4 linked regions of the Homo sapiens genome follow. The protein of the gene in region 4 interacts with the protein of the main gene of each other region in a biochemical or structural test. Each region holds a gene or a part of one and is shown on either strand. Other genes may lie near its edges.

Region 1 (3,529 bases), on a different chromosome or scaffold from region 4:
GCACTCAGCACATGCTCTTACAGTGCGAGATGCCGGACCCACAGGGAGCAAGGTCTATCCATTTATTGAGCTGCCCAGCAAGCTCACAACTCATCCATCCAGCACTCACATATGAATGAGCACCCACTACATGCCCATCTTCCTAGCACCAAGAGTGTCACAATGAACATAGCCAAGTCCTAGCCCATGAAGCCACATTCTAGTGGAGAGACCCTAATGAAGAGACAAATACACTGATGTGTGGAGGCACAAATGTCAGACAGAAAAACAAAACAGAGCAGGGGAGAGAAAGGGACCTGAAGGCTTCTCTCAGCAGAAGACAGATGGAGGTGAAGATGCAGGTGTCAGACGTTTGGGGGTAAGTTCTCCAGGCAAAGGCCCAGGAAGTGTGTGTGACGAATATTCAAGGGACAACCCAGAGGACATGAGCAAGGACAAGAGCAGCTCACGCAGCAGGAGTGGCCTGGATGCCCACATCCGTGTAACACCTCAGGTGATAAAATCCTAGACAAGTGCAATGATTTCTAACAGTGATGAGCACTATTAAGAAAATAAAACTGGAGAGTGGACAAGAGTGACTAAGAGGCTATGTTACTTTAATGGCATAATTTATACAAGTTGGCTACAGGTATAAACAGTTGCTCTTCCAACTACTAAGAAATAATTTATCACTTACTACTCTGGTCTAATCAGCTTTAACAAAGAGTTTAACACTTAGAAGTTTAAGCTATCAAATCATCAATTTGAGTCTTAAAAAAAGAAAATCACCATTTAATCTATACTTGAGTCTTCTTCCATCAATAAGAGGCGTTCCTTCTACAACCTTAAAAGAAAAAAAATTTACAAATTTACTAAGCACATCACCATCATATATACATATATACACACACACATATATATATTCTAGTATCACTTAATTTTCAACACGCCCAAGAAGGAAGATATCTTGTAACATGGAAATTTAGTAATATGTTTCAAAAACCCTAGTGGCAAGCCCTTTAATGACGCAATTCCACCTTCAGGAATTTATCTTAAATACAAATTCAGTAATGACTTCCTAGTGTAGGACCAAGCAACTGCAACAGCCACGCTCCCTGCCACACTCCTGTGTACCACCACCTCAAGACTAAATGTGCTTAAATACCTTTATATCTAGTGGATCCCTAGCTCAAACATCTACCAATGGCTACCATACTCTTACAAAGTAACAGTATGATTCCATTGTCTTCCATTTGTGGGGTCCTTTTCAATTGGGCTCTACCCTGTTTATCCACTCTACTATGACCCAAGTGCTATTTGATGACGCATACTCATATGCTTACTTGCTCTGCTATATATTATATATATATTGCCCATCCAGTTATTTAACCATTTCATGTGATTCTTTTATCTGCAATAAGAGACTGTGAGAAACCAGGTGTGGTGACTCATGCCTGTAATCCCAGCACTTTGAGAGGTCAAGGTGGGAGGATCACTTGAGTCCAGGAGTTGGAGACCAGCCTGGGCAACATGGTGAAATCCCCTCTCTACAAAAATACAAAATACAAAAACTAGCCAAGCCTGGTGGCACGCGCCTGTGGTCCCAGCTACTCGGGAGGCTGAAGTGGGAAGATGACTTCAGCCCAGGAGGAGGTTGCAGATTGCACCACTGCACTCCAGCCTGGGCAACAGAGCAAGACCCTGTCTCAAGAAAAAAAAAAAAAAAGAGAGAGAGAGAGAGAGACTGTGAGCACGCATCATGCATCAGAACCATCTCCTCTCTTCATTCGGCATCACTCACAGCATTCAGCACAGAGATACCCACAGGCATGGTACCCAATAGAACTGGCTCAGTAAAAAGTCCACTTGCTCAATGCAGCCACGTTTTACCCCACAAAATAACTATTCAGAAATGTAGCAATTCATTTCAAACTGTAAAATATAAATATAGTATCATTTGCTCTGGGCTAAACTACTTTATCTTATCATTAGCTACAGATTTCATTAGCTAGCATTCCTCCTCTCCCAAGAGAAACGTAAAAGCTGTTTGAGATCACAGGATTAGTAAAATGCCACATGCTAATTTCAGATGATCCTTATCTATTAAAGGAGTCTAGTAAATGCTGTGTTAGGCTTTAATCTGTGAATATATAGATCCAAATATACAGTCAGCCCTCCGTATCGACGGGATCCACATCCATGGATTCAACCAACCAGATCCAAAATATTTCGGAAAAAATTGCATCTGAGCTGAATATGTACAGACTTCTTTTTCTTGTCCTTATTCCCTAATACAGTATGATAACTATTTACATGGCACTTACGTTGTATTAGGTATTATAAGCAACCTAAAGGCAACAAAGTATACAAGGAAGATGCACACAGGTTATATGCAAATACTATACTATTTCTTATCAGGGCCTTCAGCATCCTCAGATTTTGGTATGTACAGGAGGTCCTGGAACCACTCCCCAAGGATATCAAGGGATGACTGCATAATATTAATATATATTTTAATATATATGCTTTTAGTCACTTTAGTCTATGAGTATATACATATATGACTTTAAACACCAAAACTGCTTTCCTTGATACTCTGAAATCACCTTACCCTAAATGAATCTGAATTTAACTGTAGAGGCTTACTGTAGAAATGACTGAAGGTCTTTATCACAAAAATCCTTGCTAGAGCCACTAAAGTTATGGTCTCACTCCACAGTATTAAGCCTGCAGCTCTACCCTCCTATCACTGGCATTCACCAGTAAAACCGATCCTTTGGTTTACAGACAGTTGGCAAACTTGCAAAGCCCTAAGAATAAGATCTTTAAATAAATTATTTATTACTTAGGGAATCTCATGTTTCTTTAAATATATCCAAGTAAAGGATTCTACTGAAAGAAGAAAAAACTACACTTAGCAATGGAGAGACAAATTTTAAAGATATTGCAGGAATCTGAAAACAACGTAAAATGTTCTTGACAACAAGCTTCTGAAAGAGATGAAAATTAGAAACTTTTCATACTTTTTTAAAGTAAAAGATGTAGACTAAAGTCCATCGAGCCCAGTAGCCTATCAATTAATCATTTAAAATGCTGCATCTGAAATGACACATACTAAGAGTGAATTTTTTTTCCATAGCAACCTCCACTGAGAGTCGGCTACTTTGCAAAATAGCCTATTCTTTTCTATTTGGTTTGAAAAGTTACACAAGAAATCTCAATCAGATTTTTTTTTAAGTTCCTCCTAATAAGCAAGTGTTATACAGACAGCACAAGAGAAATGGCTTCATGAACTAAGTTTTGGGAATTATGACCAACAACAGCCTTTAACCTTTAAACTACTCTAAGGCTGGGCAGCATGGCACAGGCCTGTGGTCCCAGCGACTCAGGAGGCTGCGGCAAGAGGATCACTTGATCCCAGAAATTGGAGACCCGCCTGGACAATATAGTGAGACCTCATCTTATTAAAACAAAACAGAATTACCATAAACGTACCTTTCCAATTGGCAGTAGGTAGAACAGGACTTGAATCAAAAACCACAGGAGGTAG
Region 2 (2,403 bases), on a different chromosome or scaffold from region 4:
ATAGGAGGCAATGAATGTGAAGCAGTAGACTGTAAGAGTTAATGTTGAATTTTTCTACTACACATACCCTATGATCTGTGTGTAGAACACTTCTTCCGGAATCTTTTATTAGGACAGTATTTCACAGAATTTATTAGTATTATTTTTGTTAATTTACAAACCTTTATTCACCATGATTTACCATGTATGCTTTAGTGGCATGAAAGCAGTGGTAGGTAGCAAGGTAGTGAGACTCCAGAATCGAGCCAACAATACAATGCCATTTATTAGAGGATAATGTCTTCAAGCCTGGGATTCCTTATCTTTACACCTCAGATATTGCATTATACATTGAAAAACTAAGAATGAAACTTCAATTAATATTGGTTTCCCTTACTAGAGGTCTTTCTTTATTAGGAATGCCAAAAACGATGTGAATGTATATGTCTCTGCCAAACGCTAAGTCTCATGATTGGCCAAATTTAAGAAGTATTGCTACATTTTAAGAATTAATAAAAATGGCCGGGCGTGGTGGCTCACGCCAGTAATCCCAGCACTTTGTGAGGCCAAGGTGGGTGGATCACCTGAAGTCAGGAGTTCGAGACCACCCTGGCCAACATGGCGAAACCCCGTCTTTACTAAGAAAATACAAAAATTACCCAGGTGTGGCGACGCGTGCCTGAAATCACAGCTACTCGTGAGGCTGAGGCATGAGAATCGCTTGAACCCAGAAGGCGGAGGTTGCAGTGAGCCGAGATAGCGCCACTGCACTCCAGCCTGGGCAACAGAGTGAGACCCCGTATCAAAAAAAAAAAATTAGTAAAAATACATTTTCAAAGAATCTTCACATTTAAAAATTAAAGCTAGGCGCCTGTAATCCCAGAACTTTGGGAGGCCGAGGCGGGTGGATCACCTGAGGTCAGGAGTTCGAGACCAGCCTAGTCAACATGGCGAAACCCCATCTCTACTAAAAATACAAAAATTAGCCGGGCGTGGTGACGCGCGCCTGTAGTTGCAGCTACTGCAGGGGCTGAGGCAGAAGAATCGCTCGAACCCGAGAGGCGGAGGTTGCAGTGAGCCGAGATCACGCCACTGCACTCCAGTCTGGGGCAGAGCAAAACTGTTTCAAAAGAAATAATAATTTTATTCTCTTGTCTATCCATTCGGTAGACAAGTGTAGCGTTACTGCCTCCTTTTTGCAAATAATAAGGATTTTAGGAGACAGACATTATCAGTTCGAGAGCCCACAGGCACTGGACTAGAAGACACAGAAACCTACACTCAAGACCCAAACAAGGAAACAGGAAGGAGTCAAATCAACTTGCATTTCCCCTACCCTCACCGCCCCCTTTCCTTCCCAAGGCAATAGTGTAGGGGACGCCCAGTAAGTTACGGAAAAGGCGGAGACAGAGGTTTCGTTCCCGCCCCTCCAATTCAGTCTCCAAAAAGGTCCGCATAATTGATATATAAGGGGCTTCAGTGTGTAGCAAAGTTGCAAAAGTTAAGAGTTGTTGTTTGTCTTCGATCATGTCTGGTAGAGGCAAAGGTGGTAAAGGTTTAGGAAAGGGAGGCGCCAAGCGCCATCGCAAAGTGCTGCGTGACAACATACAGGGCATCACGAAGCCCGCCATCCGTCGCTTGGCCCGACGCGGCGGCGTGAAACGCATTTCGGGCCTCATTTATGAGGAGACCCGCGGTGTTCTTAAGGTGTTCCTGGAGAATGTGATACGGGACGCCGTAACCTACACGGAGCACGCCAAGCGTAAGACAGTCACTGCAATGGATGTTGTCTACGCGCTCAAGCGCCAGGGACGCACTCTGTACGGCTTTGGTGGCTGAGCCTCACCCCGGCTTTTTATTTAACAGCTCACCCATAAAAGGCCCTTTTCAGGGCCACCTCCTTCGTCACACGAAGGGCTGTAACTGATGACGACTTGGGTTTCGTTTTGTAAATTTGGGATTCTAACTGAGTTAAACCGAGCCGTTTTTAGCGATCTTCCTAAGATGGCGGATGTGCTAAGGAGAAAGGGAAGGCGAAACATTAGAAACTTGTTCAGGTATTTCGATCGCAAACATTCACAGGAAAAGATGGTGGAAATGGTTTGGGAATACCAGCAGCCTTTTATGACGTATGTGATGTGTTTTATTCCCACGTTTCTGAAATTTACTCCTATGTTAGGTGGCTGGGACTTAACTACACTAGCATTACATGTTTAGTTTTTGAGATGGAGTTGCTCTTGTCCAGGCTGTAGTGCAATGACGCAATCTCGGCTCACCGCAACCACCCCCTCCCGGGTTTAAGCGGTTCTCCTGACTCAACCTCCCGAGTAACTGGGGTTACAGGCATGCGCCACCACGCTTGGCTAATTTTTTATTTTTAGTACAGAAGGGGCTTTTCTGTGTTGGTCTGGCTGGTCTCGAACT
Region 3 (3,529 bases), on a different chromosome or scaffold from region 4:
CAGCCTTGTCTTGAACTCCTGGCCTCAGGCAATCCACCTGCCTTGGCCTCCCGAAGTGCTGGGATTACAGGCATGAGCCACTGCACCTGGCCTTATAGATATTTTGAAAGATTATATTTCTTATATTAAATAGAGATAGGGTCTTACCATGTTGCTCAGGCTGGTCTTCCTGGACTCAAGCAATCCACCTGCCTCAGACACCCAAAGTGCTGAGATTACAGGTGTTAGCCACCATGCCTGGCCTAATACTTAATTTTTAAAAAACTTTTTCTTTGGAAATAATTTTAGACTTCAAAGAGAGTTGCAAAAATAATACAAATAATAGCCCTATAATCTTCACCTAGATTCCCCAAGTGCATCTTTTAAAACCACAATACAGTGATCAAATCAGAAAATCAACATTGATAACAATTATTAATACATTTTGAATTTAACTAAATTTCTGTTCATTTTCTACCTACAGTAGTAAGAAATGTCTGGGTAACATCAGTGTCACCGAAGTCTGTATTGCCCAGATTGGTCTCAAACTCCTGGGCTCAAGCAGTCTGCCCACCTCGGCCTCCCAAAGTGCTGGGATTACAGGCCTGAGCCACTGCACCTGGTCTGGACTCAATTTTAGTTTTTGAGTTTTGCTTTTTTTTTTTAAAGCAGTACTAACTACTTGTAAAGATGTATATTTCATGACTTTTATTTATTGGAGGTCTTCAAAACAGCAAAGAGAAAATTTATTTTTATTTTTAATTTTATTTTTGAGATGCGGTCTTGTTCCATCCCCAGGCTGGAGTGCAGTAGCGCGATCTTGGCTCACTGCAACCTCCGCCTCCTGGGTTCAACTGGTTCTCCTGCCTCAACCTCCCGAGTAGCTGGGATTACAGGTGTGTACCACCATACCCAGCTAATTTTTGTATTTTTAGTAGAAATGGGGTTTCACCATATTGGCCAGGCTGGCCTCAAACTTCTTATCTCTCGAAGTGCTGCGATTACAGGCATGAGTCACCATGCCCAGCCTGAAAATTTATTTTTTTTCCAAAGGAATAAACTCATTTTAGCTATTACCACTTGTACATCGAAACAATGTTGTGGAGTTTTACTGATCTTATTTTTCCTGTATATTGAAATGTTTTGGTATTTCATCATCCTAGGAATTATTTCATCATTACTCATCAATTCTCAAATATGCTAAAGAGGACTAAAATAATATGACAAAGGGAGAATTATAGAATTGCTTAAAAGGATATGCAGTAGTGAAATAAATCATTAGTTTTACACTTCAGTTTTTAGAGATGGGGCCTCGCTTTGTTGCCCAGGCCGAAGGGCAGTGGTATGATCATAGCTCTCTGCAGCCTCAAACTTCTGGGCTCAAGTGATCATCCCTCCTAAGCATCCTCGGTAGCTGGGACTATAGGTGTGCACCGCAGCCCTTCAGTTTTCTTATTGCTTTTCCCAAAACTTACAGCAACTTTTTTTTTCTTTTTGGATACAGGGTCTCACTCTGTCACCCAGGCTGGAGTGCAGTGGCGCAATCTCAGTTCACTGCAACCTTCGCCTCCCAGACTCAAGCAATCTCACCTCAGCCCTCCAAGTAGCTGGGACTACAGGCATGTGCCACCACACCTGGCTAATTTTTGTATTTTTTTTGTAGAGAGAACGTTTCGCCATGTTGTCTAGGCTAGTCTCGAACTCCTGGGCTCAAACAATCCACCCACCTTAGCCTCCCAAAGTGCTGGGATTCCAGGCATGAGCCAGCATGCCCAGCCTACAGCATCTTTCAAGAAAGTATAAAAGAAGTTGGGAGATACCATCTTAAACATTATGTAAGATGTTAACATTTGGAGAATCTAGGTGAAGGAGTACATGGTAATTTTTATACTATTTTTCAACTTTTAAGCTTTCATTGGACATATTTAAAAATCCATAGTTTTTCATCTTCCTCCTATAATGGCAAAGAGAAGAAAACTGACTACAGAAGACATTTCAGAGGAACTAGTAGATGAATGCTGTGTGACAGTAGTACTCTAGACTGTTAGGATGACGGTAAAGTTATATAAACCAAGTTGTAAAATAAGAGTCTTCAGCCAGGCATGGTGGCGTGCACCTGTAATCCTAGCATCTCGGGAGGCTGAGATGGGAGGATCACTTGAGCCCAGTACTTCAAAACCAGGCTGGGCAACATAGCAAGATTCTGTCTCCACCCATATACATATGTGACTGTACCCTAGATGAGTTTAGAATGTGATTTTTTTTTTTTTTTTTTTTTTGAGACAGAGTTTTGCTCTTATTGCCCAGGCTAGAGTGCCATGGCACAATCTCGGCTCACCGCAACCTCCGCCTCCTGGGTTCAAGGGATTCTCCTGCCTTAGCCTCCCAAGTAGCTGGGATTACAGGCATGTACCACCATGCCTGGCTAATTTTTTGTATTTTTAGTAAAAGATGGGGTTTCTCCATGTTGGTCAGGCTGGTCTTGAACTCCCAACCTCAGGTGATCCACCTGCCTTGGCCTCCCAAAGTGCTGGGATTACAGTCGTGAGCCACCATGCCCAGCGGTGAATTTTTTTTTTTTTTTTTTTTTTTTTAAAGATGGGATCTATCTCACTATGTTGCCCAGGCTGGATTTAAATTCCTGAGCTCAAGCTGTTCTCCTGCTTCAGTTCCCCCAAGTAACTGGCACTATAGGCATCCAGCTAGAATGTGATTTTCTTTTTATAAGAATCAGAACTGGGCTGGGTGCAGTGGCATATGCCTGCAATCCCACCTTCTTGGGAGGCTGAGGTGGGAGGATCGCTTGAGCCCAGACGTTCGAGACCAGCCTGGGCAACATAGTGAGACCCCATTTCTATTTTTAAGAAATGAAAAAAAAAAACAATCAAAACCACTGCACTTTGCCAAAAAGATGTATGATAGTATTCTTTCATCTTTCAAGATATTTGTACACCAAAACTTAGTTGATGCAGTTTGTAAGTGGACAGGTGCCAAAGTTACGTATATGTATAAAGATGGTTAGAAGGAAAAATTATGTAAAAATGAAAAAAAAAATCAGTTTTTTTTTTTTTTTTTTTTTTTTTTTTTTTTTGAGACAGAGTCTCACTCTTGTTACCCAGGCTGGAGTGCAGTGGCATGGTCTTTGCTCACTGCAACCTCTGCCTCCTGGGTTCAAGCGATTCTCCTGCCTCAGCCTCCCGAGTAGCTGGGACTACGGGTGCGTGCCACTGCACCCAGCTAATTTTTTGTAGTTTTGGTACAGATGGGGTTTCACCGTTTTAGCCAGGATGGTCTCAATCTCCTGACCTCGTGATCCACCCGCCTCGGCCTCTGAGAGTGCTGGGATTAGAGGCAAGAGCCACACGCTCAGCCTGGATTGTTCATTCTGATTGACATTTATTAGTCTAAAAATGAGAATGCTTATGATTATGGAGCAAAGAAGATGACTGTTCTCTCCAACAAAATTATGAAGTGAGTTTTCAAAGTATTTCATTTGATGGGCAGAAAGGGAAAAAAAGACCCAGAGGTGATAAGCTAGAACCTTACTAGA
Region 4 (5,601 bases):
GGTACAGAAGGGTTGTCAGGCTGAGGCCCATTCTGCTGGTTGGTGCCTGGGCCTGAGTCACCATCTAGAACATTCCCAAGTTTGAACTCAGGTACGGTGCTCAGTCTCTCCAGGAATCAGTTTCAACAAGATAATCCTTTGCTCACCCTTCTCATGGAATTAAATGAGGCTGTCTGCAAATGTCATTTGAAAACTGCTAACCTTTTTGGGATCATTTAAAAGGCAGAACTGAAACATGCTTCTTCACCCCTCTGAACCCCTAGCTCTGCAAGTTCCTCTGCTTCCGCAGCTATTCCATCCCCAGATAAAGACTTGAGGTGTGGAGAGGATAGAGGGCCTGCTACCTTGAGAACTTCCCACTCAGGGCAGCGACCTCTGTACACGGTCATTTCAAGCACACCTGGTCTCAGTGTTCATTGTTTATGTTCCCCCCGACCCCACCCTGGGCACATACATTTTCCTGCTCCATGAGGGATCCTTGTCCCTGCCCTCCCTGCCCTGTAGAGATAGGAGTTGCTCTTACTTACTTGATCAAATACACATCATACTTCCCAGCAGAGCGGCCAGATTTCCTTTGCTTAAGCTTCCGTGTCCAGCCTTCAGGCAGGGTGGGGTCATCATACATGGGTCCCCGGTCACGGATGATGGAGCGCCGCTGTTTGGGGGAGGCAGAAGCTTCCGGCACAGCCGGGGCGGAGCCTGACCCTTCTGATGTCTCTGCTTTGCCTGCCTCTGCGGGCTCAGCAGAGTGGTGGGCTGATGGCTGCACGGGCTCATGCTTGCCCTCTTTCTCTTCTTTCTTATCTTTCTTCACCTTTTTAAACTTGAGGGGTTTGTCCTTGAGGCCCTGGAGGTCCTGGTCTTCTGACTTTTCTTCCCTGAAGTGTTAAACAAGTATGTAAGTATCACAGAGAACATGCCAGTCTGCAGAACAAGTGAGCAGAGGCAGGCTTGGACCCCCACCACATGCAAGGCCCCAGGCCATCATACACTCAGATCTTGATGTCCTTCCCCAGGACAACAGAGACTCGGGCCAAGCTGGGACCCAAATATTTCTTTAGGAATTTGGGCTGTGGGTGGTGCTGGCCGGTGTGCCTGACCTGCACTGTGGCCACCCACAAGTCTCCTAGCACTGCAGGAGAATCAGAGCCCTTTCCTCTGAGCGGAAACACTGCGGCTCCTGAGCATACCACCCCAGCATGAGTCGCACTTCAAGGGACTCTGGGCTCGATGGCTGACAAGAGGCCGTCGACTGCTGGAAAGGGAGCCAAATGGGGGAGGGGTCTCCTTTGTGAAGGCCGGGCCTTGGGTGTGTTTTTGGTTTTCTAGAATGAGGCTCAATGAGGCACACAGTACAGTGTCATGGAAAGCACACACAGGTTTGGAGCCAGCCAACCTGCACTGAAATCCTTTGCCGCTTTCCAAACATGAACCCAGCAAATGACCTCAGCATTCTGTGCTTCAGTTTCCTTATCTTGACAACAGGTAACCCCATCTAGGCATCCTTACTGTGAGCATCACAGGAGAAAAGGCACAATGGCACTATATAAATATCAGCTAACTCAGGCCACAGGAAACTACCGCCTAGGGTCCTGGGGGTGATAAGACAAGTGGTCCCAGGTGGCGTGAGCCTCTAACACATGTTCCCTGATGAGGAATGGCCTCGGCCACAGCAGATGCGGAGGGAAGAGCAAGGAAAAAGGTGTGGTCCAGGCAGAGCCATACATCCCCTTCCTGCCGGTGGAGAAGAGCACCCTACCTATTCTAGTGTGGGAGGCTTCCCCGTTCTTTTCTGGTGACCGAAGCAGCTCCTTCTCTACACATCACTTTGGCCCGGTGGGGTCTCGTCAGAAATGGCCACCGTGAGGCCCCACACCCCAGCATCACTATCTGGCCATGATGCTCTAGTACTCTGTCGAGTATGCCACCGTGAAACCTCCTAGGACTCCAGAGCCTCTGCAACAACAGGGGCAGCTTGGAAAGAAGCAGCAGCCACCTGCGAGTCCCTTCGTTAGCAGTTCATTCTGGAAAAGAGCATGACTACTCCCACCCTCCGTGTTCTCAGCCCCACAACTCCCCTGTCCCATGTGGTTCACATCAGTGCTAGTCACCGCCTTGCGGCTGGTCTACCCCAAGAGACTTCCCCTCTTGTCTACACTGCACAGACTGTGCAATGAGGGCACCATGGCACTCACTGGCAAGCATCCTTAGGAAACCAGAACTCAAATGATGTAGGGAAGTTACCAAAGGCTGCTTAGTGCTGGGACTCAGAAGCTGCAAGGACGTATCTCTCCAGAACCATCAGGTCAGGTGTAGGGAGGCAAGAGATGTTCCAATCTAGTGACAAGGTCTTAGAGTGAGGGAATGTCTTGTCCCCACCATGACTCACCCCTGAGTTCCTCCCTATCCTGTATCTTCCTCCAGAAGTTTAGGGCCCAGAGTGTGGCTGCCAGAGTCACCTAGAGCCACTGCATACACAAAGGCATCCTACAACCCACAGAGCAGTCTTTCTTGCTGTAAAGAGGGGTCCCTAATCTGTCCCAGCACAGAGCTCGCCTTGTTTTGTTTTTTGTTTTTTTTTTGAGATGGAGTCTCGCTCTGTTGCCGATGGCATAATATCGGCTCATCGCAACCTCCGCCTGCCGGGTTCAAGTTATTCTCCTGCCTCAGCCTCCGGAGTAGCTGGGATCACAGGCGTGTGCTACCACGCCAGGCTAATTTTTGTATGTTTAGTGGAGACGGGGTTTCACCATGTTGGGCAGGCTGGTCTCGAACTCCTGACCTCAGGTGATCGACCCGCCTCAGCCTCCCAAAGTGCTGGGATTACAGGCGTGAGCCACCGTGCCCAGCCAGAGCTTCCTTTTCATGTCTCTGAGTCTTACAGCTCTCAATGGGAAATGACGAAGAACCCTGGAAAGCTAGGTGTGGCCTGTTGCCCACCAGAGATCAGCCTTTGAGAATGGACCCCTAGGCAGCTCCCCAGCTCCCCATAAAGGAGGGAGGGAAGGGGAGCCACCAGCAGAGTGGGCCAAGAAAGCAGACAGATGGGAATCGCTACTTCTACACAATCCATCATGGCACTGCCTAACGCCAGGGCTGCTCCCTAGAACCCGGACGGTCCTAATGTCAGAGAAAAACAGTGAACTAATGGGAAAGATCTGGCTTCTTCGAAACTCTCATTTGCATTTCCCAAATACCTTAATCACCATGAGGTCAAACTATAAACCTAAACGTGACGTAAGGAATGCCTTCTAGAAATCTATGCTAAAGAGACACCTCCAGAAATCTCAAAGAACATATGCATGATGTTATTTGCTACAACATTATTTTTACCAGCCAAAGGCTTCCAATACCCCCGATCCCTATCACCAGGGCACTTGCTGAATAAACTTATGGTGCGCCCACACACTGGAGTACTGTGCAGATCCAAAGGGACTAAACAAGAGCTCTAAGAACTGCGATGGAGTCATTTCCAGGATCCACTGTGAAGCAAAGGGAGCAAAGCGCAAACATATCTACTGCATTCTACCAAAGAAAGAAGGGGGGGTATTAAGGAAGGACACACCAGGAACTAATGAAATTGATTCCCTGCATGGGGTAGGGGGAAAAAGGTAAGGGTACAGGCACAGGAGTGAGGCCTAGCTGAACATGCCTCAGTGTAATTCTGACTTCTGAATCATGTAAATGTTTATATTACCCAAAATAAAATTCAAACTAAAAGTAACAAAACCTTATTACACTTAATGCAAATAAAAACAAATGAGTTCGGGCCAGGCATGGTGGCTTCAGCCTACGATCCCAGCACTTTGGGAGGCCGAGGCGGGTCGATCACCTGAGGTCAGGAGTATGAGGCTGCAGTGAGCCATGACTACATCACTGCACTCCAGCCTGAGTGACAGAGCAAGACCCTGTCTCTCTCTCTCTCTTTTTTTTTTTTTGAGACAGAGTCTTGCTAGAGTGCCATGGCGTGATCTTGGCTCACTGCAACCTCCGACTCCTGAGTTCAAGCCTTCTCCTGCCTCAGCTTCCCGAGTAGCTGGGATTACAGGTACCTGCCATCACGCCCGGCTAATTTTTGTATTTTTAGCAGAGACGGGGTTTCACCATGCTGGCCAGGTTGGTCTTGAATTCCTGACCTCAGGCGATCCACCCACCTTGGCTTCCCAAAGTGCCGGGATTACAGGCATGAGACACCACGCCTGGCCAAGACCCTGTCTCTTAAAAAAAAAAAAAAAGAAAAGAAAAAAGAAAAGAAACAAATTTAATTCTATATCAAATTGACAATATACCACAGAGAAAAGATTTATTTCAAATGACTTTTGACTACAGTGCTCTGCAAACCTGTAGTGGGACATATTCTAAGGCCAACAATAACACTCCAGGGGCAGTAAACACACTAGATTGGCTCCCAGGAGAGATATGTGATTCTGCTTCTGGGGCATCTTGTGCCAGAAAGCCCGGGGAGTGCAAGAGAAAAACAGGGAGGGCCCATGAGAGGCCTCTAGCAGTGGTCCAGGTGTGGCCCAGGGTGGGGGCAGTTGAGGATTTGGGGCTGGTCTAGGTGGTGAAGCAACAGAGCTCGCAGGTGGATTAGTGTGGGGGTGAGGGGCAAGGGTGAGTCAGGGACCATGTCCAAAGCCTGGGAAGATGGTGGTGCCACTGATTGAGAAGGAAAAGACTGAGGGGCCGGCTGGGTGCAGTGGCTCTCACCTGTAATCCCAGCACTGTGGGAGGCTGAGGCAGGTGGATCACCTGAGGTCTGGAGTTCGAGCCCAACCTGGCCAACATGGTGAAACTCCGTCTCTACTAAAAATACAAAAATGAGCCGGGCGTGGTGGCAGGTGCCTGTAAGTCCCAGCTACATGGAAGGCTGAGGGAGAAGAATCGCCTGAACCCAGGAGGCAGAGGTCGCAGTGAGCTGAGATCGCAAGACTCCGTCTCAAAAAAACAAAAACAAAAACAAAACCACTGGAGCGGCAGGGGAGCAACACCCACAGAGACAGTTATACCATCAAGGAGAGAAAACAGTTCTTCAGCTACTCGCTAGAAAGGGGGGAAACCCCGCTGTGATCAGATTCTGAGTTGGGCCTGAATGAAAATGAACTGTCTGCTTGGGGTTTTAAAGGCTTTTTATTGTGGTAAAATATACAAAACAGGTCAGGTGTGGTGGCTTACACTTGTAATCCCAGCACTTTGGGAGGTGAGGCAGGTGGATCGCTTGAGCTCAGGAGTTTGAGACCAGCCTGGGCAACATAGCAAAACCCTGTCTCTACAAAAAAAAAAAAAAAAAAAAAAAATTAGCTGGGCATGGTGGTGTGTGCCTGTAATCCTAGCTACTCGGGAGGCTGAGGCAGGAGGATCACTTGAGCCTAGGAAGTTGAGGCTGCAGTGAGCCGTTGATCATGCCACTGCACTCCTGCCTGGGCGAACAAACCAGACACATATATGTCTCAAAAAAAAATACATATATATATATATATATATATATATATATATATATATATATACACACACACACAAAACAAAGTTTACCTTTTTAACTATTTCTAAGTGTACAATGAATGAACTTTTTTTTTTTTTTTTTTGAGACGGAGTCTTGCT

Evidence for each region.
Region 1: the proteins of MECP2 (region 4) and LBR form a complex in vitro, tested with the Homo sapiens proteins (one study listed by BioGRID).
Region 2: the proteins of MECP2 (region 4) and H4C6 are reported together in a solved structure, tested with the Homo sapiens proteins (one study listed by BioGRID).
Region 3: the proteins of MECP2 (region 4) and SIN3A form a complex in vitro, tested with the Homo sapiens proteins (2 studies listed by BioGRID).

The regions. Positions count from the first base shown.
Region 1 is NC_000001.11:225,414,510-225,418,038, forward strand, and holds part of LBR (delta(14)-sterol reductase LBR), read right to left. Parts: coding exon 3,475-3,529; intron 824-3,474; coding exon 769-823; intron 1-768. UniProt on the Homo sapiens protein: Catalyzes the reduction of the C14-unsaturated bond of lanosterol, as part of the metabolic pathway leading to cholesterol biosynthesis.
Region 2 is NC_000006.12:26,238,920-26,241,322, forward strand, and holds H4C6 (histone H4), read left to right. Parts: upstream 1-1,473; 5' UTR 1,474-1,506; coding exon 1,507-1,818; 3' UTR 1,819-1,874; downstream 1,875-2,403. UniProt on the Homo sapiens protein: Core component of nucleosome. Nucleosomes wrap and compact DNA into chromatin, limiting DNA accessibility to the cellular machineries which require DNA as a template.
Region 3 is NC_000015.10:75,441,662-75,445,190, reverse strand, and holds part of SIN3A (paired amphipathic helix protein Sin3a), read left to right. Parts: exon of another isoform or gene 1-1,857; intron 1,858-3,529. UniProt on the Homo sapiens protein: Acts as a transcriptional repressor. Corepressor for REST. Interacts with MXI1 to repress MYC responsive genes and antagonize MYC oncogenic activities. Also interacts with MXD1-MAX heterodimers to repress transcription by tethering SIN3A to DNA.
Region 4 is NC_000023.11:154,031,680-154,037,280, forward strand, and holds part of MECP2 (methyl-CpG-binding protein 2), read right to left. Parts: intron 5,183-5,601; exon of another isoform or gene 2,245-5,182; intron 879-2,244; coding exon 528-878; intron 1-527. UniProt on the Homo sapiens protein: Chromosomal protein that binds to methylated DNA. It can bind specifically to a single methyl-CpG pair. It is not influenced by sequences flanking the methyl-CpGs.